7 linked regions of the Homo sapiens genome follow. The protein of the gene in region 4 interacts with the protein of the main gene of each other region in a biochemical or structural test. Each region holds a gene or a part of one and is shown on either strand. Other genes may lie near its edges.

Region 1 (3,500 bases), on a different chromosome or scaffold from region 4:
TTCACATTTTCAATTTCTTTGAAAATAAGAATACTTTGTTGTTGGAACTTCATGAAGCACACAACTTGATAAACGTAATTGTTCCTGCCATTTTAATTAATAATCTTGCTAGAGTTTTACTCCTTGTTCCTCTATTAGGCATAGTATATAAACACAATTTTGCCTTTTTAAAATTCCTCCCAAGTCATATAAGACAGTGATAATTTTGTTTTGTGTCATAACATAAAGTAAAATGTGGGTATTCATTTTAGGAGCAAGTAATTCATGAAGACATTAAAGGTTTGTCTTAAAGTTTTACTCATGGGTTATTTGCTCCTAAAACAAATATCCCCATACTGCTTTATAGTAATTTATTCCCCTCTTTGATGTTGCCATGGTTTGCAAAGTCTACTTCTAATGACTGTTGTTCCAATAACATAAGAAGCCTTCAAGAGAAAGAAGTCCATCAACCATATTTAATCATTAACTTCAAATCTCAATCCATTCTAAAGCCACAGGCTCCACATCTTCCCTCAGAGTCTCCTTTTACTTTCAAATTTCAGATTTCTTATCCCAGGATGCAGAAACAAAAAGGAATCCTGAGATAACATTTTCTAGACAATGAAAATGATGAAATAAAACTTACCTTGTCCTTCGATAACATTCCTAAGGATGAAAGTAGCTCCAAGTCCTCTTCCTGATCTCTGAATGCAAATCCCCAGAAACTGGCTGATTTTTCCACTGGCATATGGGTCAGCTGTAGTAACACGAAGAATACTTCCTACAAATTCAAAAGAGAAGTGAACTTTTTTTTCAGCACACCCAGCTGAGAAGTAAACTTTATATAAGATGCAGAAACAAACAAATAGCATTTCTAGATAACTTAACTTCCTAAATGTTTTAATGTAGGAATAAATACTTCATATGAGCATAACCCAGATATGTAAAAAACAATCTTCTTTTGCTTTTTAAGAAAACTAACCATCCAATCACAAACTAGCCATCCTAATTACTAATAATAAAAACATACAGCTCTTACTGACCAACATAGAACTCTGGAATGTGGAGTACTTTTCTCCTTTCTAACATATCTTTTCTTTCTATTTGAAATTTCAGAGGATCTGTTCTTCCCCTTCGAGGAATGAATTCAGGACTCAAGAACCTGTAAAAAATACAAATAAATAATTAAAAGTAAACTCAAAAGGCTGCTAGAAGAAAAATTGTTGCTTTTCAAAGAAATTAAATATGATATTGATGTATTTTATTCTTCATTGTCTAAATAAAAGTCAATCTTATTTCTAAAATTGTTAATGCTCATGAAAATAGCTAACAATTCCTGAGTACTCACCTGGTATTTTGTTAAAAGCTTTATGAAACATCTATAGCATAAATTAATCCTTCTAGCAACCATGTGGGTTTGGTGTCATCTCCTTTTTACAGAGCAAGAAACTGAAGCTTGAAAAAGGTAAATAACTAACCCATTGCTACATTAGCTATAAATCTGTCAAATCAAGATTTAAATGTAGGTATGTTGGTCAGTCTCCAAAGCCTATAACCATTACTACAGGCCTCACACTGAGCTATACATGCTATAATAAATTATGTCAGAAAAGACATCAACATATAAATCACTAATTATAAATTGACTTTTAAAATGATCTTCCTGATCAGAGAAGATGGCCCTGGAGATGGTGCTGAAGGACCTGGGGCATCTGCAGGCTTGTTGGCTGTGTTTGCTGGTCAAGACTATAGACCAGTTTGAATATGAAGGTTCTGACAACTGTAACACCTATCTACAGACGAAGAGTAACTGAGATGGTATATGACTGCACTAGCTCTTCCTTTGATGGAATCATTGCAATGATGAGTCCAGAGGACAGCTAGGTCTCCAAGTGGCAGCGAGTCAGTAACTTTAAGCCAGGTACATATGCGGTGTCATTCACTGGTCACCTGCCCCAAGGAATCGTGTAGGAGCTGAAAAGTCGAGGAGAGACCTACAAATCCAGAGACACAGCTGCAGCACATCGTGTCCCTGAACCATTTTCTCTTCCTTGGATGACAGGTGCGGGTGGGAGGGATTTGGGTTGGTGGATTAACAGATCGAACTGAAGAGAAAGTAGGATGCTGATTTTCCTATCCATGGCCCAGGGATGCACCTTGCCCATGGCAAGGACTCTAGGTCAAATGCCAATAAATATGAACCTCTAGAAAGTTCTTAAGGCCATGATACATTCCTTGCCTCCCTCTCCCTTTCTCTTAGGCACAGTAAGAGCTTGTTTATGCTGTAAGAATCTTCCCAGAACAGCAGAGGCCCTTCTACTCCCTACTGACTGTCTCTGAGCCTTCTGTACTGCAGCCTTTCTAGTGTGCTTCCTTGCTTCCAATCAGAAGGTGCTGTCCAGAGGCTAGGTAATCCCATCAGCTTGGTAGTCCTGGGGTCTCGTGGTTGTATCTTTCTGCCCTCTAGACCTGGCACAGCAGTATCCCTTGAAGAAATCCTGAGGCTTCATAGTGCTCTTCGCTCCTTGACCACGTTTAATAATTCTTGCTTTTCCCCCTCCTCGTCTCTTCTCTTCTGTTTACCGCTCTTCCTATACCTTAGGCCAGTCTCACATCCCTGCATTTCACATTCTCCTAACTGGAGACCCTTGGGCCTTAGGCAACTGCTGGGTCCTAGTCTGCCTTGTTTGTGCCTCTGTAGGAGGTAAGTCCTTCCTTTTCTCCTCTGGCCTAGTAGGGGACCTTGGGTAATGTCCCATTTTGGCCAAGGTGAGGTATTCGTTTTAGAATAAAAAATTCACCATAAATTCTCATTTACTTAAATTTCCACAGAAATCCTGTTAGTGTCCCCGTTTTGATTTCCCTAAGTTGCTGGTTCTCCCTCTGTAAAAAGAGAATGATTAGACCCTGCCTGTTTACCTCAGGATTGTTGTGATTGTAGAAATGAAGCTATGTGAAAATTGTGTAAGTCTTACAAAGGTGAAATCCTTTTGCTTAAAAAATAATAATCTTCTTTTTTTCTTCTTTAACTGATTTTAAGCTCATTATGAAATATTTAATCTACATAAAAAGTATAAATGACAGTACAATGAATATTCATGTCTTTACCACCCACCTCAAGAAATAAATTATCAATATTGTGGAAGCCCCTGTGTATTTAGGATAGTTCATTACTATCCTAAATTTGGTGATTATTCCCATGAATTTCTTTCTCTTCCTCAATTTTCTACTTTGAAAATTTTAAAGCCTACCAAAAAATAGTAATACAATGAACACCTGTAGATCTTTCATCCACTTTTACCAACTGCTAAAATTTTGCTATATTTGCTTTATATACACATATCATTTTTTTCTGAACCATTTGAAAATGTCAGCCAGGTGTGGTAGCTTACGTCTGTTATCCCAACACTTGGGAGGCCGAGGAGGGTAGATCGTTTGAGCCCAGGAGTTCCAGACCAGCCTAGGCAACATAGTGAGACCTCATTCTACAACAAAAAAATTTTTAAAATAGCCAGGCATGG
Region 2 (4,076 bases), on a different chromosome or scaffold from region 4:
ACATTAGAAGAAATATTGTTAAAATGTGTATGCTGAAGTTTCCCTGACACCTACACAGGTGGGAACTGCACTGCACGAGTGCCAGCAGAGGCAAATTTAACTCACTTGCTGCTCCACCCTTTGCTGGAGGGGCAGCACAGGTGAGCAGGTGCAGGACTCAGGGCAAGCACTTTTGGGTGCCGGCAAGAGCAAACTCCATACCAGTCCCATGGCAGCATCTAGGGAGAGGGTGACCGTGATCTCTGAAGACCCAGAAGAAGTGTTACACTGCCCATTTTAGCTTTGCCATCCAAGGATAGCTTAAGTGTTAATAGCTCAGTGGAGGGTCAGTGTGACAGTGTTTTGCACCTACACTCATGGCACCCAAGTTCTTGTTCAGCATCCAGGAGGAATGAGGTTGCATGAACGAACTGAAGATGGTAAATGCAAGAGATTTTAGTGCTGGTGAAAGTGGCTTTCAGTGGGAAGGGAATATGTAAAGGGGATGGATGGAGCGGGAAGGTAATCTTCCCCTGGAATCTGGCCGAGGACTAGATGCTACACCATCAAGCTGTCCCTCTCATGTCAAGCTGCTTCTGTCTGCCATACAACCATAGTCTTCAACATCCAGCTGCATCTCCTCTCTCTGCTGGCTGAGCCTGGGGTGTTTATGAGCATAGGATGGAGGGTGGGGCAGGATATGGGTGGTTTTGGAAAAGGCGACATTCAAGCAGGAAAACAGGGATGTATGTTCTCACTTTGGGCTGAGTTATCAGGCTTTTTGGCTTGACGGTGGGGCCCTTGCTGGGGACCTGCCTTCTTCTGCACAGAATTTCCCTGCCTCCTATACTTATCAATGCTACTAAAAGCAGTATAAGGATTCAACACAATCCATCTTCACAGAAATATAAAATGAAATGCTAAAATCCACGTGTAATCACAGAAGACCCTGAATAGCCAAAGTAATTCTGAGAAACAAGAACAAAGTTGGAAGCATTATGCTTCTTTATTTAAAAGTATATTATAAAGTTATAGTAATCAAAACAGTATAATACTGGCATAAAAGCAGACATATAAACCAGTGGGACAAAAATATACAGCCCAGAAATAAACCCAAATATATATGGTTTCTATGGTTTGAAGCCTTGAATGTTTGTGTCCTTTCCAAAATGCATGTTGAAACTTAATCTCAAATGCAATAGTTTGGGCCTTTAAGAGGAAATTAGGTCATGATGACTCCTCCCTCATGGATGTAATTAAGGTCCTTATAAAAGAGGCTTCACAAGACATTTGGACTATTTCACCCTTCCATTCATTCCACCATGTGAGGACACAGTTTGTCCTATCTGGAAGATGCAGCAACAAGATACCATCTTGGAAGCAAGCAACGTGACCCTAAGTAGATGCTGAACCTGTGGCACCTTGATCGTGGACTTCTCAGTTCCAAAACTGTGAGAAATAATTTTCTATTTTTTATAATTACCCAGTTTGTGGTATTCTGTTATAGCAGCACAAATGGACTAAGAAAGAAACTGGTACCAATAAGTGGAGTACTGCTGTATCGAACACCTAAAAATGTGGAAGTGGCATTGGAACTGGGTAATGGGTAGAGGCTAGTCTCTAACAGACGATTCTGGTAAGGACTAAGAAGAAGAGAGCTGTAGACAGAACCTCAGTCTTAGAGATTATTTTAGTGGTTGTAATTACAATATCAATTAAAATGTGGGCAGTGAGTGCCATTCTGATGTGGTGTCAGATGAAAATGAGAAATAATTAAAAACTGGAGGGGGCCAGGCGCAGTGGTTCAATGCTTGTAATCCCATTCACTTTGGGAGGCCGAGGTGGGCAGATTACTGGAGGTCAGGAGTTCAAGACCAGTTTGGCTGATATGGTGAAACCTCGTCTCTACCAAAAATACAAAAATTAGCCTGTCATGGTGGTGCACACCTATAATCCCAGCTACTCGGGAGGCTGAGGCTGTAGAATTGCTTGAACCTGGGAGGCGGAAGTTGCCATGAGCCAAGATCGCACCACTACACTCCAGCCTGGGTGACAAAGTGAGACTCCATCTCAAAAAAAAAAAAAAAAAAAAAAAAGTGGATCAAAGGCCATCCTTGTTATCAAGTGGCAAAGAATATGGCTGAATTGTGTCTATGTCCCAGGGTTTTGTGGAAGGCAGAACTTAAAGGCAATGAACTAGGATGTTTGGTGAAATAAATATCTAAGTGAAGTGTTCAGGGAACTGACTGCTTATAATAAAATACGGGAAGAGAGAAATGAATTAAAAGATAAAATGTATAATCAAAAAGTAAGTGAAATTTAAAGATTTAGAAAATTATCAGCCTGGCCATGTGAAGATAAAAGGCTGTTCAAGAAAGAAAATTAAAGGTATGGCCAAGCTACTGTTTAAATAAGAAATATATATGTGTAGGTAGAAGCCAGATACTATTCACTAGAACAGTGGAGGGGTGATCCCAGTGATATTTGGAAGATCTTTGGGGCTCCCATTCCCATTACAGGTGCCAAGTGCTAAGTTTTTATTGACAGATGAATGGATAAACTGTGAGATACACACACACACACACACACACACACACACACTCATATAATTCAGACTTAAAAAAGGAGATCTTGCCATTTGCCACAACATGGAAGATACTGGAGAAACTTATGCTAAGTAAACTTACCCAGACACAGAGACATATTGCACAATCTCATTTATATGTGGAATCTAAAATAACAACAAAACAACTAACAATATAGAATTCAGAGAGATAGAGAGTGAAACTGTGGTTACCAGGGGTAGAAGAAGAGAGAGAGAGAGAAAACTGGTAGGGGAGAGCAGCAGGTCAAAAGATACAAAGTGAAAGATAAGTAGGATGAGCAAATCTAGAGTTCTAATGTACAGTACAAAGACGATAGTTAATAACAAGGTATTGTATTTGGCATTTTTGCTAAATGACTAGATTTTAGCTGCTCTTGCCACACATAGAAATACAAACGAGTGACTATTTGAAATAATAGATATGTTAATTTTTAAATTTTTATTATTATACTTTAAGTTCTGGGATACATGTGCAGAACGTGCAGGTTTGTTACACAGGTATACACGTGCCATGGTGGTTTGCTGCACCCATCAACCCATCGTCTACATTAGGTATTTCTCCTAATGCTATCCCTCCCCTTGCCCCCCACCCCCCGACAGGCCTTGGTGTGTGATGTTCCCCTCCCTGTGCCCATATATTCTCGTTGTTCAATTCCCACTTATGAGTGAGAATATGCAGTGTTTGGTTTTCTGTTCCTGTGTTAGTTTGCTGAGAATGATGGTTTCCAGCTTTATCCATGTCCCTGAAAAGGACATGAACTCATTCTTTTTTATGGCTGCATAGTATTCCATAGTATATATGTGCCACATTTTCTTTATCCAGTCTATCATTGATGGGCATTTGGGTTGGTTGAAGTCTTTGCTATTGTGAATAGTGCTGCGATAAACATACGTGTGTATGTGTCTATATAGCAGAATGATTTATAATCCTTTCAGTATATACCCAGTAATGGGATTGCTGGGTCAAATGGTATTTCAAGTTCTAGGTCCTTGAGGAATCACCACACTGTCTTCCACAATGGTTGAATTAATTTACACTCCCACCAACAGTGTAAAACAATTCCTATTTCTCCACATCCTCTCCAGCACCTGTTGTTTCCTGACTTTTTAATGATCACTATTCTAATTGGCATGAGATGGTATCTATTGTGGTTTTGATTTGCATTTCTCTAATTACCAGTGATGATGAGCTTTTTTTCCTATGTTTGTTAGCCATATAAATTTCTTCTTATGAGAATTGTCTGTTCATATCCTTCACCCACTTTTTTTTTTTTTTTTTTTGAGATAGAATATCGTTCAGTCACCCAGGCTGGACTGCTGTGGCACAATCTCAGCTCACTGCTACCTCTGCCTGCTGGGTTCAAGTGATTCTCCTGCCTCAGCCTCCTGAGTAGCTGAGACTACAGGTGCATACCAGCACACCTGACTAATTTGTTGTATTTTTAGTAGAGATGGGGTTTCACCGTGTTAGCCAGGCTGGTTTTGATCTCCT
Region 3 (3,500 bases), on a different chromosome or scaffold from region 4:
GAATCCCATTTTGTAGCCAGTTTCACGGCACTCAGGATGACAGCCACATGAGGGGTTTCACTGGAGTGTTTTAGAAGCCGTTTGCGGGTGAAGGTATCAGAGAGTTCAGAGCTATGGATGGGTCCCCCAGGGTGTCCTTCAGCAATCCAGGTTGGAACAAGAGTCTGCTGAGAAGCGCAGGTCAGGGTTCACCACCCTCAACCACGGGGCAGTTGGTACAAGTGACCAGTGGTCTTTGCTGAACCACGCTGTGACATACCAGGAGAGCCATGAACACATTTCCCCATTGAAAGGAAACAATACAAATCCTGTCCTTCTCTCATTAAAGGAAAAGAGCTCACAATCTTCCAAGGACTTTGTGCTTTTATGTGCCCATTTATCCAGGAACCAACTCTGGTTCTCTCATGTACACATTCATTCATCAAATATTGACTGAGCACAGCACCTGCTCCACGTTACTCACCACGGGGCAAACAGACAAGAGGAAGAGAGCACCACCCTTAAGAAAGTTCCAGTATTGGTAGGCAGCTGGGTAGTTAGATAAGGGCACTAATTGCTAGAATACAGAAAATGTACTTAGAGATACTAAGCACAAAAGTCCTGGCAAGGCCCTCACCCAGTGCTTGTGGGCAGAGATCACATTCGCTAGAGGGAAGAAGCTTCCGAAAGGCTACACGCAGGGTCCACGCCCCTCAGAGGGGGCTCAAGAGACAGACTTCAGTGGTGGATCAGGGCTTCAGCACAAACCACAGAGAAACCCGTGTTTCCTAGGGGAGCGCCGGGGACCCGCAGAGGCCCGCAGCAGGTACCTTGCAGTCACAGCCGATGGGCTTCCCACACTCCTCGCAGGTGTTGGCGAACAGGGTCTCAAAGCACACCACGCAGTAGGGGCTCTCCTCCCGCAGGATGTACTTCTTGCCAAAGAGAGATTCGTTGCAATGGTGGCAGTCAAAGCGCTCAGTCATTTTGACTCCTGGCTTTTCAGCAACCTATCAAAAAGAAAAGAAAATCCAAGTCCCATTAAGCACTCTCTGAAAGGGGTGCACGCAAAGGCATTAACTGTCCCACTGTCTGTCATCTTTAGCCGAAAGGTGGCTAATTCCTCTGGATGAATAATTAAAACTCACCCTTTAATCGGTCATAATTTTTAATGATAACACCTTTTTTCATTAGCTAGGGCGGTTTTGTGTTTGAATGCATTCCACTTTTTTTTTTTTTTTTTTTTTTTTTGGAGACAGAGTCTTGTTCTTTTGCCCAGGCTGGAGTGCAGTGGTGCGATCTCGGCTCACTGCAACCTCCGCCTCCCAGGTTCAAGTGATTCTCCTGCCTCAGCCTCCCAAGTAGCTGAGATTACAGGCACCTGCCACCACACCCAGCTAACTTTTATATTTTTAGTAGAGACAGGGTTTTACCATGTTGGCTAGGCTGGTCTCAAACTCCTGACCTCGGGTGATCTGCCCACCTCAGCCTCCCAAACTGCTGAGATTACAGGCGTGAGCCATCACGCCTGGTCACATTCCACTTCTTGAAAAGCACAAATTATTTTTTACTGTGTCAGAAAAAGCTATCTCAGTTTTAAATGCAGGTAAGGGCTGACACCAGAGCCCCCATCCTGTCCGGCTGTGACCCGGCCTTGCATCTTCCCCTTCTCCCTGCCTCCAAAATAGAAAGGCAGGCATAGAAATAATACGTCCATTTCTATAAAAAGATTTTCCGTGAGCTCCTCTTTATGATTCATGATTTGAATAGGAAGAAATCACAGTGGCAAAAGGGAGGGAGATCTGACCTGGGAAACCTGAGATTAGATGCAATGAGGGCACTAATACCCTTGACCTGGGAGTGCAAGCTGCCCTTGCACAAGAAAAACTGCCAAAGTCCCTGAGGATGAATCATTGCTCCCTGCGGGTAAGATCATCCTGCAGCTGCCCAGGTACCCTGAGAGCAGGATAAATGGAAAGACTCACTTCCCAAAACAATGATATCAAATAGTCAGAAATGCAGTGGCTGCAGTCAGTGGCTCTCTGGGCAACACCTCAAGCCCTTCCAACAGGAACAGGACACTGGCGAGGTTGCAGAGAAAAGGGAACATTTATACACTGTGGGTGGGAGTGTAAATTAGTTCAACCCTTGTGGAAAGCAGTATGGTGATTCCTCCAAGAGCTAAAAACAGAACTACCATTTGACCCAGCAATCCCATTACTGGGAATACACCCAGAGGAATACAAATCATTCTACCATAAAGACACATGTACATGAATGTTCATTGCAGCACTCTTCACAATACCGACAACATGGAATCAACCTAAATGCCCAGCGATGACAGATTGGATAAAGAAAATGTGGTACATATACATCATGAAATACTATGCAGCCACAAAAAAGAATGAGATCATGTCTTTTGCAGGAACACGGATGGAGCTGGAGGCCATTATCCTTAGCAAACTAATGCAGGAACAGAAAGCCAAATACTGCATGTTCTCACTTGTAAGTGAGGGCTAAATGAGGGAACACATGAACACAAAGAGGTAAACAACAGACGCTGGGGTCTACTTGAGCGGGGAGGGAGGATGGCAGGAGAGAGAGGAGCAGAAAACATAACACTTGGGTACTAGGCTTAATACCTGGGTGATGAAATAATATGTACAACAAACCCCTGTGACAAGAGTTTACCTGTATAACAAACCTGCACATGTACCCCGAACCTAAAATAAAAGTTTAAAATAAGGGGTCTCCATGCCCGGCACACTGCATTTTTCTAGGATGAATACGCAGTGTGAATAAGCAGCAAGTGATGGGCCCTCCTCTTATGACCATTCCTATAAAATCATGTTAGAATGATCCTGGAGAGAAAAAGCCTACCACAGGAATAGCTGGTGTGGAGAAACGGCCATAGGGCATTAAAAACACAGACAATTTTCTTCAGGAATAAATGGCAATATTCCATTTGCTAAAAGTGGAAAGTTTTCTCTGTTCTTAAATAGGTACACTGGGCTGGGTGCAGTCACTCACGCCTGTAATCCCAGCACTTTGGGAGGCCGAGACAGGTGGATCACCTGAGGTTGGGAGCTTGAGACCAGTCTGGCCAACATGGTGAAACCCTGTCTCTACTAAAAATACAAAAAAAAAAAAAAAATTAGCCGGGCTTACTGGCACATGCCTGTAATCCCAGCTACTCAGGACGCTAAGGCAGGAGAATCATTTGAACCCAGGAAGTGGAGGTTGCAGTGAGCTGAGATGATACCACTGCACCCCAGCCTGGGCAACAGAGCGAGACTCCGTCTCAAAAAAAAAAAATAGGTACACTGGTTGGCTATGTAACTCTGAGCAAGAGTTCACAGGATCTAAGAAAACTTGGTTCAATTTGCAGTCTTCAAAAGATAGGCGAGTGAAATGCCAGAATCAGACCTTCTGATGCAAATAAAATATTGCCGCCTGGTTTGTGATTACAGTAATTTTGTACTATTGCGTATACACGATCCTGACAACTGTAAGCAAGGAAA
Region 4 (3,500 bases):
CTTTTGCTGTGCAGAAGCTCTTTAGTTTAATTAGGTCCCATCTGTCAATTTTGGCTTTTGTTGCCATTGCTTTTGGTGTTTTAGTCATGAGGTCTTTGCCCATGCTTATGTACTAAATGCTATTGCCTAGGTTTTCTTCTAGGGTTTTTATGATTTCAGTTCTAACATTTAAGTCTTTAATCCATCTTGAGTTAACTTTTGTATAAGGTGTAAGGAAGGGATCCAGTTTCAACTTTCTACATATGGCTAGCCAGTTTTCCTAGCACCATTTATTATATAGGGAATCCTTTCCCCATTGCTTGTTTCTGTCAGGTCTGTCAAAGATCAGATGGTTGTAGATGTGTGGTGTTATTTCTGAGGCCTCTGTTCTGTTCCATTGTTCTGTATCTCTGTTTTTCTGCCAGTACCATGCTGTTTTGGTTACTGTAGCCTTGTAGTATAGTTTGAAGTCAGGTAGCATGATGCCTCCAGCTTTGTTCTTTTTATTTAGGATTGTCTTGGCTATAGGGGCTCATTTTTGGTTCCATATGCAATTTAAAGTATTTTTTTCCAATTCTGTGAAGAAAGTTAGTGGTAGCTTGATGGGGATGGCATTGAACCTATAAATTACTTTGGGCAGTATGGGAAAATGGCCTAAATTTTTTAAGCCCTCTCCAACCCATACACTTATCCACTGGCAGAGGTAGACGGCTTCCAGACTCTAGTGTTTGAGCAAAACCTTTGCCAATCACTGGCTAACCATGAAACTATACAGACATGGGCAACTTCCCAGAAGCCAGTATTAAAATAAAAATTTGAATGGAAAAAAAAAAAAAAAACACTTGAGCAGAGAAATCAGTGGCTACACAGCACAGGGGAGGTAAATTCTGCAGATTACGTTCAGACAAGTTACCTAAAAAGAAGTACAGGAAACAAAAAAGAAAAAACCCTACAAGAAAAAATTGTAAATCCAGAGTTGCTACAATACATTATCTATGAGGTTCAGTTTTCAATAAAATAGTTCAAAACATGCAAAGAAACAGGAAAGTGTGATACATATTTGGGAGGAAAAGCAGTTAACATAAATTGACTTTGAGGTGAACTTAGCAAAGACTTCAAATTCATTATTATAGATATGTCCAAAGAATTAAAGACAACCATGTTTAAAGAATTAAAGTAAAATATAATGACTACAAAAAAAGGAGAATCTTGATAAAGAAACAAAACCAAACATATAAACAAAAGACAAACAGAAATTCTAGAGTTAAAAAGTACAGTAACCAAAACCAACAAATCACTACAGGGGCAACAGCGGTTATGAGATGACAGATGAATCAGAGAACTTACAGGCAGCTCAATACAAATTATCCACTTTGTAAGAAAAAACGGAAAAAAAAAAAGACTACAGAAAAATAAACAGAGCAGCAGAGACCACCACAGGGTGGAATCAGTGTTAAGGATAAACATATAGACCAATGAAACAAGAAAGTCAGGAAATAAACTCTTATATTTATGGTCAATTAATTTTTGACAAAGATGTCATGGTAATTCAGTGGGTGGAGAATAGTCTTCAACAAATGATGCAGGAACAACTGGATACCCACATGCAAAGCAAAGAATGAAGACCCTTACCGTATACCACACATAAAAAAATTAACTCAAAATGGACCTAAACATAAAGCTTAAAAACTATAAAACTTCTAACAGAAAACAGAAAAAAATATCTGTGACCTTTGAGTTAGGCAAAGAATTTTTACATATAACACCAAAAACACTATCCATAAAAGAAAAACCACACTACTATATACCGCTAGAACAACTATAATCAAAGAGACTGATAATACAAATATTGGCGAAAATATGAAAAACTGGAACCTTCAAATATTGTTGATGAAAATGTAAATTAATACACAAACTTTGGAAAAAAGTTGGCAGCTTCTTAAACAGTTCATGTTACCATATGATCCAGCAATTCCACTCTTTGAAATCTACCCAAGATAAATGAAAACATATGCATATGCCCATCCAATGACTTGCATTTAAATGTTCTTCAAAATGGAAACAATCTAAATGCCCATAAAGAAGTTATCTCATGCTATACAGTTATCACAGTTTTGTTCTCTTTGAACTTGGAAAACATTCTTAAATGACTCTTTACTTAATTATCTATTTAAAAACAAGGCCAGGTGCAGTAGCTCATGCCCATAATCCCAGCACTTTCGGAGGCTGAGGCAGAAGGATTGCTTGAGCTCAGGAGTTTGAGACCCTGTCTATCCTAAATATCAAAAAAGTTAGCCAGGTCTGGTAGCATGCACCTACTGTCCCAGCTACTCGGGAGGCTGGGGCAGAAGAATTGTTTGAGCCTGGGAGACAAAGGCTGCAGTGAGCTATCACAGCACCACTGCACTTCAGCCTTGGTGCAGAGCAAGACCCTGTCTCAAAAAATAAATAAATAAATAAACAAACAACAAAGTTTTCCAGTGAAAATTCCTGATAGAATAAAAGCATTTAATTGCTTGCTAATTCCCTGTGAAGACCCTCCATTTTTGGAGCATATTTCTCATTCAAAGTTGGCTTATTTAAGAGTTCAACCTGCTAATGAAACTGTTGGAAAACTAGTCCATACCTGTCCCTAATTTCTGAATTACATGTGAAGGAATAGGGCACTGACGACTCTCACGACCATAGTGCTTCTCAGAGGAATACCGACGGATTATTAATCTCACTGTATGAGGCTTCCTTCCATCTTGGCATACTCTAAAAATAAAGAGAAAGTGGAAATAAGGAATTAGAAAAGTATTACCTTTTTAAATTATGTAACATCTCATTTATCTAAAGGTGCCAGATTTTGTTAAATATGACAATTATACATATAGCAGATAACAAAATAGTAAGCAATAAAGGTCCCTGAGTATCCAAATAATCATCACAAAGTCTATGCACTAAAACTCTGAATGTTTAGATGTCAAGCTCTCAGGCCTCACTCAGAATTGAGTGCTGTCAGAAATAGAAGAGATATAAGATACAATCATAACAAACTGTTTTATAATACAGATCCAAAACAAAACTAAAAGCAACCAATTTTTTTTTTTTTGAGATGGAGTCTCACTCTGTTGCCCAGGCTGGAATGTGGTGGCACAATCTCAGCTCACTGCAACCTTCACCTCCCAGGTTCAAGCAATTCTCCTGCCTCAGCCTCCTGAGTAGCTGGGACTACAGGCATGTGTGACCACACCTGGCTAATTTTTGTATTTTTAGTAGAGAGGTGGTTTTGCCATGTTGGCCAGGCTGGTCTCGAACTCCTGACCTCAGGTGATCCCCCCACCTCAGCCTCCCAAAATGCTGGGATTACAGACGTAAGCCAACACACCTAACCAAAAGGCAACAAATTAAAATCAGCAGGAAATTTAAGAAACTGAATCATTCACTGACAAAAGCAAATAAGTGAAAAATAACAAAAGAACTTTTTTCAAACTTTTTTCTTACGAGATTACCAAAAAAAAGATTTTTTTTTACAAAAT
Region 5 (2,750 bases), on a different chromosome or scaffold from region 4:
TGCAATGAAATACTTCCCGGCAAGGAGAAGGAACAAACCACACGCACACATCATGAATGACTCAAAAGCATTAAGCTGAGGGAAAGATGCCAGACTCAAAAGGCGACATCAGTGTGACTCCATTTATATGACATTCTAGAAAAGGCAAAATTATAGGATCAGATAATCAATCAGGGTTGCCAGGGAAAGAGGGCAGGAGAAGGGAATTTTTTGGAGGGTTAAAAACAGGTTGATCTTGGTGATGGTCACAAGACACTAAATTTGTCAAAATTCACAGAGCTGTATATTTCCAAAGGGTGAATTTTACTGGATGTCAATCATACCTCAATAAACCTGGGAAAAGGTGGTGGCGATGGGCCTTGTAGGGATGGCAAGGATTATGGGGATAAGACGATGTCCAGGCTACGTGGGGGGGCAGCTGATCTGTACCCCACTTAACATTAGAAGTGCTCTCTCCGACCTACACAAGGAATGCATCTTGAGCCTTCTGTTTAAACACTCCTTGTCAAGACTACCTGCAGCTGGAAGTAAAATCACCTAAACAAGCCAAGGTCGCTGATGTCCTTCGAATGTTATGGCTTGTATTTCCAAAAGGGACTTTGGCTCAGCCCAGATTTTTCTGCATCCATCCACTCATCTAGTAATTGATTGGTTTTCACAAAGGGTAGGGAAAGAAACCCCTGGTTGGTGAATTCGTTGGTACACTGTTTCGGTGTGCCCAGCTGTTTATCAATCCTGACTAGCAGAGCACTGCCTCCCACCGCAGAAATTCTCCTTGGCCAACAGGGTGCTGAGTGGAGGTAGAAAGGAGGCCCAGGGTGGTCCCACTGACAGAATCTCAGGGCCGCCATCCCCACGGTCCAAGGGGCCTATGTGTTGCCACTGACTGAAAGCACTAGAAAGAATAGAGGGTAACAAGTGGCTCTTCCTGGAGGTTGTCACAGCAACCAACTTGGAACACCATTTGGCTTAAGGAATTTTTTTTTTCTTTTTAAATCAGGCTTTCACAAACAGATCTTGTGCATCAGTCTCCTGGGTGGAGGCAGGTAGAAGGGGCTGACTTGTTCTCAGAAATGGAAGGGACATTCTCAAGAATAGCCCAGACCCGCCCACTTTGAATAAACCCAGCTAAGTCCTCACCTAAGCACCAAGACATAAAACAAAACAACAACCCGGATAGCGTGCTTGCCTCTCCAAAGTGCAGTCTTTTATTTTCTCAGTTGCATCCTAACCTTGATTTCAACCAGAAACGGGCCCCTGTTCATACGGATAGGGGTTCTGGACTGTTGACTCTAGCCCTGGTCTTAATTCACTGGCAATTTCATAGCCTCACTGGTTACCCTTGAGCTTCACTTTCCTATTTGCAAAGAGTTATTTATAATTTTTTTGAGATGGAGTCTTGCTCTGTCACCCAAGCTGGAGTGCAGTGGCCCGATCTTGGTTCACTGCAATCTCCGCCTCCCAGGTTCAAGCGATTCTACTGCCTCAGCCTGCCGAATAGTTGGGACTACAGGTGTGCACCACCACATCTGGCTAATTTTTTGTATTTTTAGCAGAGACGGGGTTTCACCATGTTAGCCAGGATGGTCTCGATCTCCTGACCTCGTGATCTGCCCACCTCGGCCTCCCAAAGAGCTGGGATTACAGGCGTGAGCCACCGTGCCCGACCCTTATTTGTAAAGAGTTATTTAAAGCAAACAGAGAAATTTCTGAAATTCGAATTGGATATGGGCCGTGAGGGTCTGGTGACCAGGTGATTAAAATCTTGTTGCTGTCTACCTTCCATCCAACAGGTAAATGCCTCACGACGGTGGTTTATATTATAATAAAGAATCCCAGAGGGTTAAGTGTGGAGAGGGTACAATGTTCTTATTATACTCTTCTCAGTCGACATGGAGAATAGAGGAGAGCAGAGGAATGCCCATCTTACATACAACTAGAGCGCCGCTTCTCAGCATGCCTGGCTTGTCTTGAGCATTCGCTGAATGAATGCAGATTAATCAGAACAACAGACTTACCTCTGAAAACTTAAATTCTGTAGAGTGCCTATGTATCAATGCCAAGGTTGCTGACCGGTAAGACCCCTGAAAACGAGCGATCACGGGCTTCCCTGACGACAGGGCCATTATAGTGTCCTCAGATTAGATCTTAGCACAATGGCTTTAACCTGCTTGATGAATGAATAACAGAGGGAAGAAAGAAAGGAAGTACGTGAAGGGGGTAAAGAGAAGGAGGTGAGGGGATGAGGGGGGAAAGAGTGACCTCCAAAAATGGACTGGCCCAAACTGGGCCAACCTGAGCTACCCTGGAAGACGCAAGAGGGCTCACTCTATCCCAGGGATGAACAGAGGACTCTGGAATCCTCAGATGTAATGGAAAAGTCAATGAGCCATATTGTACTCAAAATATCTTGTTAATAACAAGGCTATTGGCTTTGAATGTTTGGAAATCATCCACAGAGTAGTTTACTAAGCCACAAAGCAATTACCACTAGCACCCATTTTTCATAAAGAAACCAAGAAATAATATTCTAAAATTGGTAGCTGGTGTCATGACCCAACCCCAGATCTGGACAGAGTGGTTCTCCATCCCATGGACAGATCCTACCAGGAGGTCTTCACGTAGGTGAAGGCCTTTGTGCTGACCTTTTTGGTTGCAATGTTTCAAGAACAAGAGAAAAGTGACAACGTTTGGTTTACTTTAGTATATTAGGCATTTTTCTAATGTGAACTATACGAAAGCAATTCTCA
Region 6 (4,288 bases), on a different chromosome or scaffold from region 4:
ACTTTTAATTTATCTCAATGCTAAATGTGGAAGAAATTAATTGCTTATAATTTTTGAACTGAGTTTTAAAGTTTTTATCAAAAAAAATTCTCTTGCCTATCATGGCTCAACCAGAATCGTGTTCACGCCCTTCATGAATTAGAATGAGTCTGTTCCTATTGCTAACATATCTGTCTTCCCAGGATCCGGACTTGTCTTTCCTTCTTCAATATCTCACCCCTGTACGCCTCAAGTAAAGTTGGCAGGTTTTCCTTTTCTACCCTAAAATGGGAATGGAGGGGGCCTTCATTTTTATTTTAATATCACCTATACTCTAATGGGGTTATTAAAAACTGACATTTCTGATAGGTGAACATAAAATGAAATGTCATCAGCTGGAGATACAGAGGGATGTGTTTAGAGGTGAAGTGAGTTTGGAATGGTTTTTTTATTTTTTTGAAGTTTACATCAAAGTGATTTTGTATTTTTACTGAATTGGTTTATTTTATCAGATATTAACAAATTATAATTGTGTATGTTTATGGGGTACAAAATGATGCTGTGATATGCGTATACAATGTGTCATGACTGAATGGAGCTAATTAACCTACTATCCAATACTTAGCATTTTGGAATGAGTTTTGAAATACTTCATCAAACAAGGCTTCCAAAACTCTGTGGCCTCCAAAACTCTACCAAAGGTAACTGCAGGTGGTGACTGGGTGGGGGGTACACAAAGCTTCAGTGCTATTCTCTGTCTGTCACTGTGTACAACTGAAATTTTCCATAATAAAAAAGTTTAAAAATAGGTTTCTCCATCTTTTCTTTCCTTTTTTTTTTTTTTTTTAACAAGGCCCTCTTGATTATGAGGATTCCGTTTTCAGGCAGGAAATGGGGACAGGGTGAGAGAGGGCGCCGATCAGCTACTGTCAGGCTTGCTCCTTGCAAAGGGGCGGGCGGTGGAGAGAGAGGGGAGGGAGGAATTAAGGGGATCGCGCTTCCTCAGGGCCCACAGGCCTCATACCTGTGGTGTGGACCTCCAAAAGAACGGGCCACACCACCGCCAAACACAGAGCACGCAATTCAACTAAAAATTCGACTTCAGTTTCTTCCTGTCCGCGCCAGAACGGACATCAGACTGCCCCCCGCCCGCCTCCTAGCAGCTCCTTTTCACTTCGGCTGCTGCCAGGATTTCGCGACCTAGACCCCTCTTTGAAGACCACTTCCGATCCCCGACGCGGCAGCCCTTGAGGTCGCAGCCTAGCACGGAGAAGTTGGCCGGCTCTGGGGGCTATGAGGCTGCTCACCCCACAGGCGCAGGTCTACGCAGCACACACACCACCTCCTTCTTTGGACTCAGACCAAACACGCTGGGCTGTAGGAGGGAGACGGACAGATACACGGACTCGCGCGCGCACGCCTCACCAACTGATTCCAACCAGAAAACGGAGCCACTGTGTAACGCCCAGCCCCCCTCCCCTCGACACCCCCAATCAGCCAAGCCTTCGGCCGGTGTCTGCTGCACTAAACACCAGGACGTGGCCAGGGAAGGCGCAGGCATCGGTCCGAGCCAGGAGCGCCGCGGCGCCAGCGCATCTGACGTCGCAGGAGGACTGTGCGCACCTGAAGTCTGGGTGCCAAGCGCCCAAGCCTCTGCGTGCAACGAAACCCCCAAAGGAAAACAGGACTACCAGAAGACCCCTTCCTCTCGTCTTTCAGAAACGCCAAGCGGCCCCTCTGGCCGCCTCCTCAAAGCTCGGCTGCCAGAGCCACTCTAGTAGGGTCTTGCAAAAAGCGCATAGGGACAAAGCCCCTTCCCTAAGAAAAGTGCCCAACTCATCCAGTGAGCCATTCCTTCCTCCTCACTGCCCAGAGAGTGCACATGAAGAGGCAGAAATCACGACTAGGAAAAAGCGAGATTCAAATTGGAACCAAAAAAGCGTATGTGCTCGCTCCCATCTCGGCGCCAGGGCTGTGGCTCCCAGGGCTGCAGGCTGTCGCGGCTGCCAGGGGCCAGACAGCTTTTGAAGGCAGGTCTTGTCCTGGCTAGAGGAAAGAGGCTCCAGGAGTCTCTGCTTCCGCCACGGTCGCCCGTCGGGATTCCCCATCCCAAGCGCGCTTGCACCTTGCCTGCCGCTCCGCTCGGAGAATTAGTCTGTTTCCCTTCCTACTCCCAAACAGACCTAGGTCCCCAGCTCCGTGGCCGCCCGGCTCACCAGCCCTGGCTGGTCTCCTTCGGGTCACTCCGAGGGGCAGCCCGAACCCGCAGAGCCTTGGCCCGCCGCGCGCCCTCATGGCCCTGCTGGGCAGCCTGGCTCCGCTACGCTCTCAGTTCTCGGTCTCACCAGCTCCCATCGAATTCGCACAGCAGCCCCTTCGCGTCTCCCGGGGTGGCAAGGCACCAAGGTGCAGCCCAGGCCAGCATCGACCCCTTCCTGGGCATTTTCTCTGCCGGCTCAGCTCCCCCTCCCGCCCTGCGACCCCGTGTCTCCCAAGTCTCGTCGCGGCGACCACCCGGACTTACCGCGGGCGCCACGCCGCCGCCGGGTCTGCGCGCTCCGAGGCGGAGCCAGGACTAGGACACCCGCCAGCGCAGGGCAGCCTCCAGCTCCCGCCGCCAGCTCGCGGCCCCTGCCGCGACCCCGCCCACTGCGGGCCCCTCCGCCCGCCCCCGCGGCCGGGAGGTCTGGACTTACCTCCGGGACAAGGTGACCCGGCAAGTGCGCCCAAGCGGCCGCCCGCGACTCTCCCGAGCGAGCGAGCGTGCGGGGCGGTGCGGCGCCCGCCTCTGCTCCTCCGCTGCCAGGCTCTCTCCTCCTCTGCCCTCCCCTCAGCGCCGCTCTGCTCCCCACGCCTCTCCCCGCCCTGCGCTCTCCGCCTGCGCCCCCGGCTGCCCCGAGCGCCGGGCGCGGGGCAGCGGCGGCAGCCCGAGCGGCGGGGAGTCGGGAGCTGCGGCGCCGGGGCGGAGCCCAACCCTCTCGGCCCCCGGGAGAGGAAGGGGTGCGGGGAGACTCTCGTCGCGCTCGCCTGGCCGGCAGGCTGGGCGAGGGGCGCCCTGGGGCGAGCCGCTCCTCTTCGCTTGCCGAGCCTGCCGACGCGCGTGCTGGAGGCAGCGGGCGCGGGCCCCGGGGGAGGAGGGCAGGGAAGAGAAGGAGGGCGCAGCCCGCGCGAAGGTGGCCACCAACTTTGGCCCAGACCAGGGAGGCCCTAGCGGGGGATCGCGTCCAGATGGTGGCCCGCGGCCAGTGTCTGACAATGTGAGGGCCACAGAGGCTGGGGGCGGGGGATAGCTGCGGGGGACTAGGAGGACAGGAATTTGCTGCCCGACTAGAGGAAGGGATGGCTCCCCTCGGTCCTAAAGGCCTCCCCAGGCTGCGGTTCGGTTTTGAGGTTAAAAATGACCCAATTTATGGATCCGGCGAATGTTCAAGTCCTGACCAGCTAAGCCCTGGAGGAGCAAGCGGGCGCGGAGTTCAGACTCCAGAGACCCCCTCAGCCCTGAGCCAGCCTGTTGTTGGCCCATGGCGGGCCCGCCCCAGTTGGAATTGGAAGGAAACTAGGGCGGTGGTAAGACAGTCTGCGTTCTAGGAGCGGAGGAGGTGGTGTTTGCAGTGTAGATTTCATAGAGAATCAACTCTGAAAAAAAGATTTACCAGAAAGGGGGTCAAAAGTTATTTAGAAAAGCATCTGTGCGCCCCCGTTTCAACACTAGGCAGAGGCCCCAGTCCTGCCACCCGCAGGCTGGTACACTGGTGGTCAGAGAAGGTTAAGCTCCAGAGTTCCATGGCTCCCAACCTTCCTAGAGCCCTCCCTCCTGCCTGGTAACCCACCATTGCGCTGCGTCTTGCCCAGGTGTCCTGGTGGGCAGGGGCAGGAGTTAAAGGTGGTGCCAGGAACAAGAGGTCCTTCCTATATTCCTTTCAGGGGACGTGGCTTCTAGGGAGCCTCCGCAGCCCAAAGAGAATGCTGAAATGCAGAGTGCCAGAAGGAGGCATTTGAAGGAGGCGCGGATGAGTGGAACCAGTACTATCACCTGAATTCCATCCCCGTCTTCATGTCTGCAGCCCCGCGAGACACACCTGATGTTTCTTCCTTTAGGTCCCCAGAGCTGCAAGGCTGTGGTCTGGAACACTCAGAAACGGGCACTGTTCATTTCTCCCATCTAGCAGAACTTCTCAACTTGGAAGAACATGCCACCACACTTTAATAAAGCAGCTTACCTTTCCGGAGTCCTTTCCTGAATAAAGCAGTTTCCCATCTAAGCCATTAGGTTGAGCAGATACTATTAGACCCATTTGAGGTGGAGAGT
Region 7 (3,500 bases), on a different chromosome or scaffold from region 4:
TTTTATTTATAGGTCCCAATTTCAAGGTAAAATGTGCTTCACTCGTGCTAGAAGTGAAAGAATATCCTAGAATTATTATCTAAACTGATTTTATCAAATTAGCTTTCCCAAGTAAAAACTAGAGTTATTTAAGTAGTTATTTGAGTAACTTCTTAGCAATGTAGGAAAAAAATAATAGGAATTAATGTTCTCTATGAAATAAGAAAAAGGCTTAAATCTATTCTGTACACTATATTTTACATTTATTATTTTCAAGTTTAACAGAATGACCACACACATGCATTTAAAATTTGCAGAATTCTATAAATATATTTCTACACATTTAAGGAACTATAAACTATATTAGTATGTATGTATTATTAAATTTAGTAACTGCTAGGTGTGGTGGCTCACACCTGTAATCCCAACACTTTGGGAGGCCGAGCTGGGAGAATCACTTGAGGCCAGGAGTTTGAGGCCATCCTGGGCAACATAGTGACATCCTGTCTCTATATAAACACACACACACACTCACACAAACACAGATTTAGCTGGGTGTGATGGGGCATGCCTGTGGTCCCAGTTACTCTGGAGGCTGAGGCAGAAGCATCATTTTGAGCCTGGGAATTTGAAGTTACAGTAAGCTATGATCACACCACTGCACTACAGCCTGGGTGACAGAGCAAGACCCTGTCTCAAAAAAAATAATATTATCATTTACTGAACATTTACTATTGGCCAGACACTACTCTAAGTCCTTTACATGTATTGACTTATTTCATTCTCACAACCCTACAAAGCAGGTATTTTTTAATTTCCATTTTGCAGACAGGAAAACTGAGGCATATGGAGGTTACGTAACTTGCCCAAGGTTATATACGTTACCAGTGGTAAAGCTAGAACTCATAGATAGTTTTGCTCTAGAGCAGGAATGTCCAATCTTTTGGCTTCTCTGGGCCACACTGGGAGAAGAATTGTCTTGGGCCACACATAAGATACACTAACACTAACGAGAGCTGATGAGCTAAAAAAAAATTGCAAAAAAACTCATAATGTTTTAAGAAAGTTTACAAAATTTGTGTTGGGCCACATTCAAAGCCATCCTGGGCTGCATGTGGCTCACAGGCCACGGGTGGGACAAGCTTGCTCTAGAGCCTAAGATTTTAATAAGTACCCTATTCTTAGTACTATTAATAATTTAAACATCATTTAATTTTCTTTATAGACATAATAATGTATATTTCCTCCATGCCACAGAGAAGGGAATTGGTTATGAAGGCAGAGTATTACTGACCTGAGCTTTCACTGCCTCTGTCACTGCACTCGCTGCATCCACAAGGTCCCTGGTCTTTGCAGAACAAATGTCTAGTCCTAACTTTTCAGCAGTAACAAATGCATAAAATGCACCGCCATATGCAATGTCCACCATCACCTTTCCATGTCCAGGAACATCCACCATGAGATCTAAAAAAAAGATGTGTTTGGAAAGAAGATGTGTTTGTTAATAAGTATTTTAGCAATAAAATTCAAAGGATTTTTAATATGTTTATTTTTCAAGAGGGATGTTCTTTTCCTATCATAAAAATAATGAAGTAAAAATCCGTTTTTTAAATGAATAAGCATCGAGTGAATAATAGCTAGATGCATCATTCTATTTTTAACTTGATGATTGCAGAAGTTATAAACTAAAGCCATGCTTTCCCTAACTCATACAGACATATTCATTAACTTCCCTGAGGATCTTTTCTAGGAAACACCCCTGAGGCCGAGAGAGGGAAACCCAAGGGCATCCCTGTGAACACTAAGAAGGAAAATGTCTATTCCCCACTTGTACTATGAGAGATGGTTTAAAATAGTGAGGGTCTTGGATCCTATTTACAAATCAATTTTCTTCAGCCGTAATGTCAAAACATAAATTTTAATAAAAGATTTTTCTATATAAATTATATACACTTATCTACATGTTTTCATCTCCTTAAGGTATCCTGCAGGCAAACACAGAAAAATGCCATTGTAGAATCATTGACTGCTACAGCATCATTTTGCACCAGGGTTTTTATTTGAGCATTTTAAGTCTCAACATCCCCAAAGTTTCACCTGAAGGTCAGTAGTTTGAAATCTTGAATCTGTATTTCCAAAGAAAGGGGGCTGGGTGATGTTTATTTCGCCCCTTCTCAAATTTTCCTCTTCCCTAATTTAAGCTAGCTTGGTGATCACTGCCTTTTAGGGAAGCCTATGGCAGGGGAGAAAGCTTGTCTTTCATGTTTTTATTTTAGGGAAGCCTAAGCTCTCAGGGGAAAGACATCTGTTGGCAAAGGAGTGTCCTGAAGGGAGAAATATTTCTCCTAGAGATAAATTTTTTCTCCCTTGAGAAGAGTGGAGGCTGAAGGTCCTTAGTGCAGAGAGGACGTGTGTTAACTTCCCCCAGGGCACCACAGGAGCAGGAGTGAAGAAACAGAGGATGGGGAGGCAGTGCAGAGGGCAAGGACCAGGTAGGGTGGGGCAGCCAATGCTCCTGCTCCACTTTGCTGGTTAACTGTGTAAGCTGAGGACTGAAGTGCCATCCTCTCCAAGGCCACAGCACTTTTAAGAAACCTTTGCTCACACATATCAGGAAAGGGGACAACACATGGAGTGATGAGGCTAAGTGAACCAAAAGGACAGAGTAGAGTTTCAGCTTCAGAAATTAAGTTTTGGGAAAGAAAATATATCTTGTGTTCCTGAGTTTTCATACAAGGTCATACAAAGATATCAGTATGCTATCAGTCCACAGAAGGCTATCAGTATGCTATTAGTCCACACTAGTCCACAGAAGCCCTTTTAACCCATGATGTGTTAAAACAGAGCAAGTTTATAATCAAAAGAGTAAAACATGCTGTGGATTGTAACAACAAAACTGAATAAAAAATGTCTTTATCTTGATGCTGGCGCAACATGAAAAGCAAGTTTAATGAAAAGAGAATGGGCAAGTTGATAGAAATGAGGGACTGCTGGAAGGTGGAAAGCTAAAGTGAGGGTGAAGATCAGCACTTACCAGGAGACACAGGTGACGGTCCCAGGGTTCAGTCGGCCTGCCCTCTTCCCTTGATTGTAACAACTAAATGGGGCATTGGCCACCAATCCCGGGACCAGGATGAAATTGGGAAGCTGGTTCAGGAGAAGTCATCCCTGAGCCTACAATCATTTCCCTGGCCCAACCTTTCTAGAATCTTGGGTCTGGTTTTCTTAGGGTGGGCAGTTGGGTAGGGTGCTACACCTCACTGAGTTTCAGTTTCCTTTTCTTTAAAATGGACCAAATTTCCTTTAAAGTTACTCTTGTCCACCAATTATCTGTGACTATTTCATTTTTTAATCACTAAATTACTAACATTAAAAATTAAGATATTTATTTCACCCATGAGTACTTCCTATGTGGCAGGTCTTTACATACACTAGCCCCTTAATTCATTACATTAGTGCCTTAATTACTACAGCCCTGAGAGGTAGGTACTGTTTTACTTACTATCTTTACATTATTCCCT

The links.
Region 1: the proteins of POLI (region 4) and MRPL19 form a complex in vitro, tested with the Homo sapiens proteins (one large-scale study listed by BioGRID).
Region 2: the proteins of POLI (region 4) and MS4A6E form a complex in vitro, tested with the Homo sapiens proteins (one large-scale study listed by BioGRID).
Region 3: the proteins of POLI (region 4) and FHL2 form a complex in vitro, tested with the Homo sapiens proteins (one large-scale study listed by BioGRID).
Region 5: the proteins of POLI (region 4) and GAS7 form a complex in vitro, tested with the Homo sapiens proteins (one large-scale study listed by BioGRID).
Region 6: the proteins of POLI (region 4) and SYNDIG1 form a complex in vitro, tested with the Homo sapiens proteins (one large-scale study listed by BioGRID).
Region 7: the proteins of POLI (region 4) and L3HYPDH form a complex in vitro, tested with the Homo sapiens proteins (one large-scale study listed by BioGRID).

The regions. Positions count from the first base shown.
Region 1 is NC_000002.12:75,649,783-75,653,282, reverse strand, and holds part of MRPL19 (large ribosomal subunit protein bL19m), read right to left. Parts: intron 2,975-3,500; exon of another isoform or gene 1,635-2,974; intron 1,142-1,634; coding exon 1,023-1,141; intron 761-1,022; coding exon 626-760; intron 1-625.
Region 2 is NC_000011.10:60,325,979-60,330,054, forward strand, and holds the start of MS4A6E (membrane-spanning 4-domains subfamily A member 6E), read left to right. Parts: upstream 1-1,276; 5' UTR 1,277-1,430; intron 1,431-4,076. UniProt on the Homo sapiens protein: May be involved in signal transduction as a component of a multimeric receptor complex.
Region 3 is NC_000002.12:105,385,552-105,389,051, forward strand, and holds part of FHL2 (four and a half LIM domains protein 2), read right to left. Parts: intron 990-3,500; 5' UTR 966-989; coding exon 810-965; intron 349-809; exon of another isoform or gene 1-348. UniProt on the Homo sapiens protein: May function as a molecular transmitter linking various signaling pathways to transcriptional regulation. Negatively regulates the transcriptional repressor E4F1 and may function in cell growth.
Region 4 is NC_000018.10:54,286,517-54,290,016, reverse strand, and holds part of POLI (DNA polymerase iota isoform a (long)), read right to left. Parts: intron 2,737-3,500; coding exon 2,606-2,736; intron 1-2,605. UniProt on the Homo sapiens protein: Error-prone DNA polymerase specifically involved in DNA repair. Plays an important role in translesion synthesis, where the normal high-fidelity DNA polymerases cannot proceed and DNA synthesis stalls. Favors Hoogsteen base-pairing in the active site.
Region 5 is NC_000017.11:9,912,857-9,915,606, forward strand, and holds part of GAS7 (growth arrest-specific protein 7), read right to left. Parts: 3' UTR 1-2,750. UniProt on the Homo sapiens protein: May play a role in promoting maturation and morphological differentiation of cerebellar neurons.
Region 6 is NC_000020.11:24,468,141-24,472,428, reverse strand, and holds the start of SYNDIG1 (synapse differentiation-inducing gene protein 1), read right to left. Parts: upstream 2,801-4,288; 5' UTR 2,676-2,800; intron 2,557-2,675; exon of another isoform or gene 2,196-2,556; intron 1-2,195. UniProt on the Homo sapiens protein: May regulate AMPA receptor content at nascent synapses, and have a role in postsynaptic development and maturation.
Region 7 is NC_000014.9:59,477,909-59,481,408, forward strand, and holds part of L3HYPDH (trans-3-hydroxy-L-proline dehydratase), read right to left. Parts: intron 1,444-3,500; coding exon 1,274-1,443; intron 1-1,273. UniProt on the Homo sapiens protein: Catalyzes the dehydration of trans-3-hydroxy-L-proline to Delta(1)-pyrroline-2-carboxylate (Pyr2C). May be required to degrade trans-3-hydroxy-L-proline from the diet and originating from the degradation of proteins such as collagen-IV that contain it.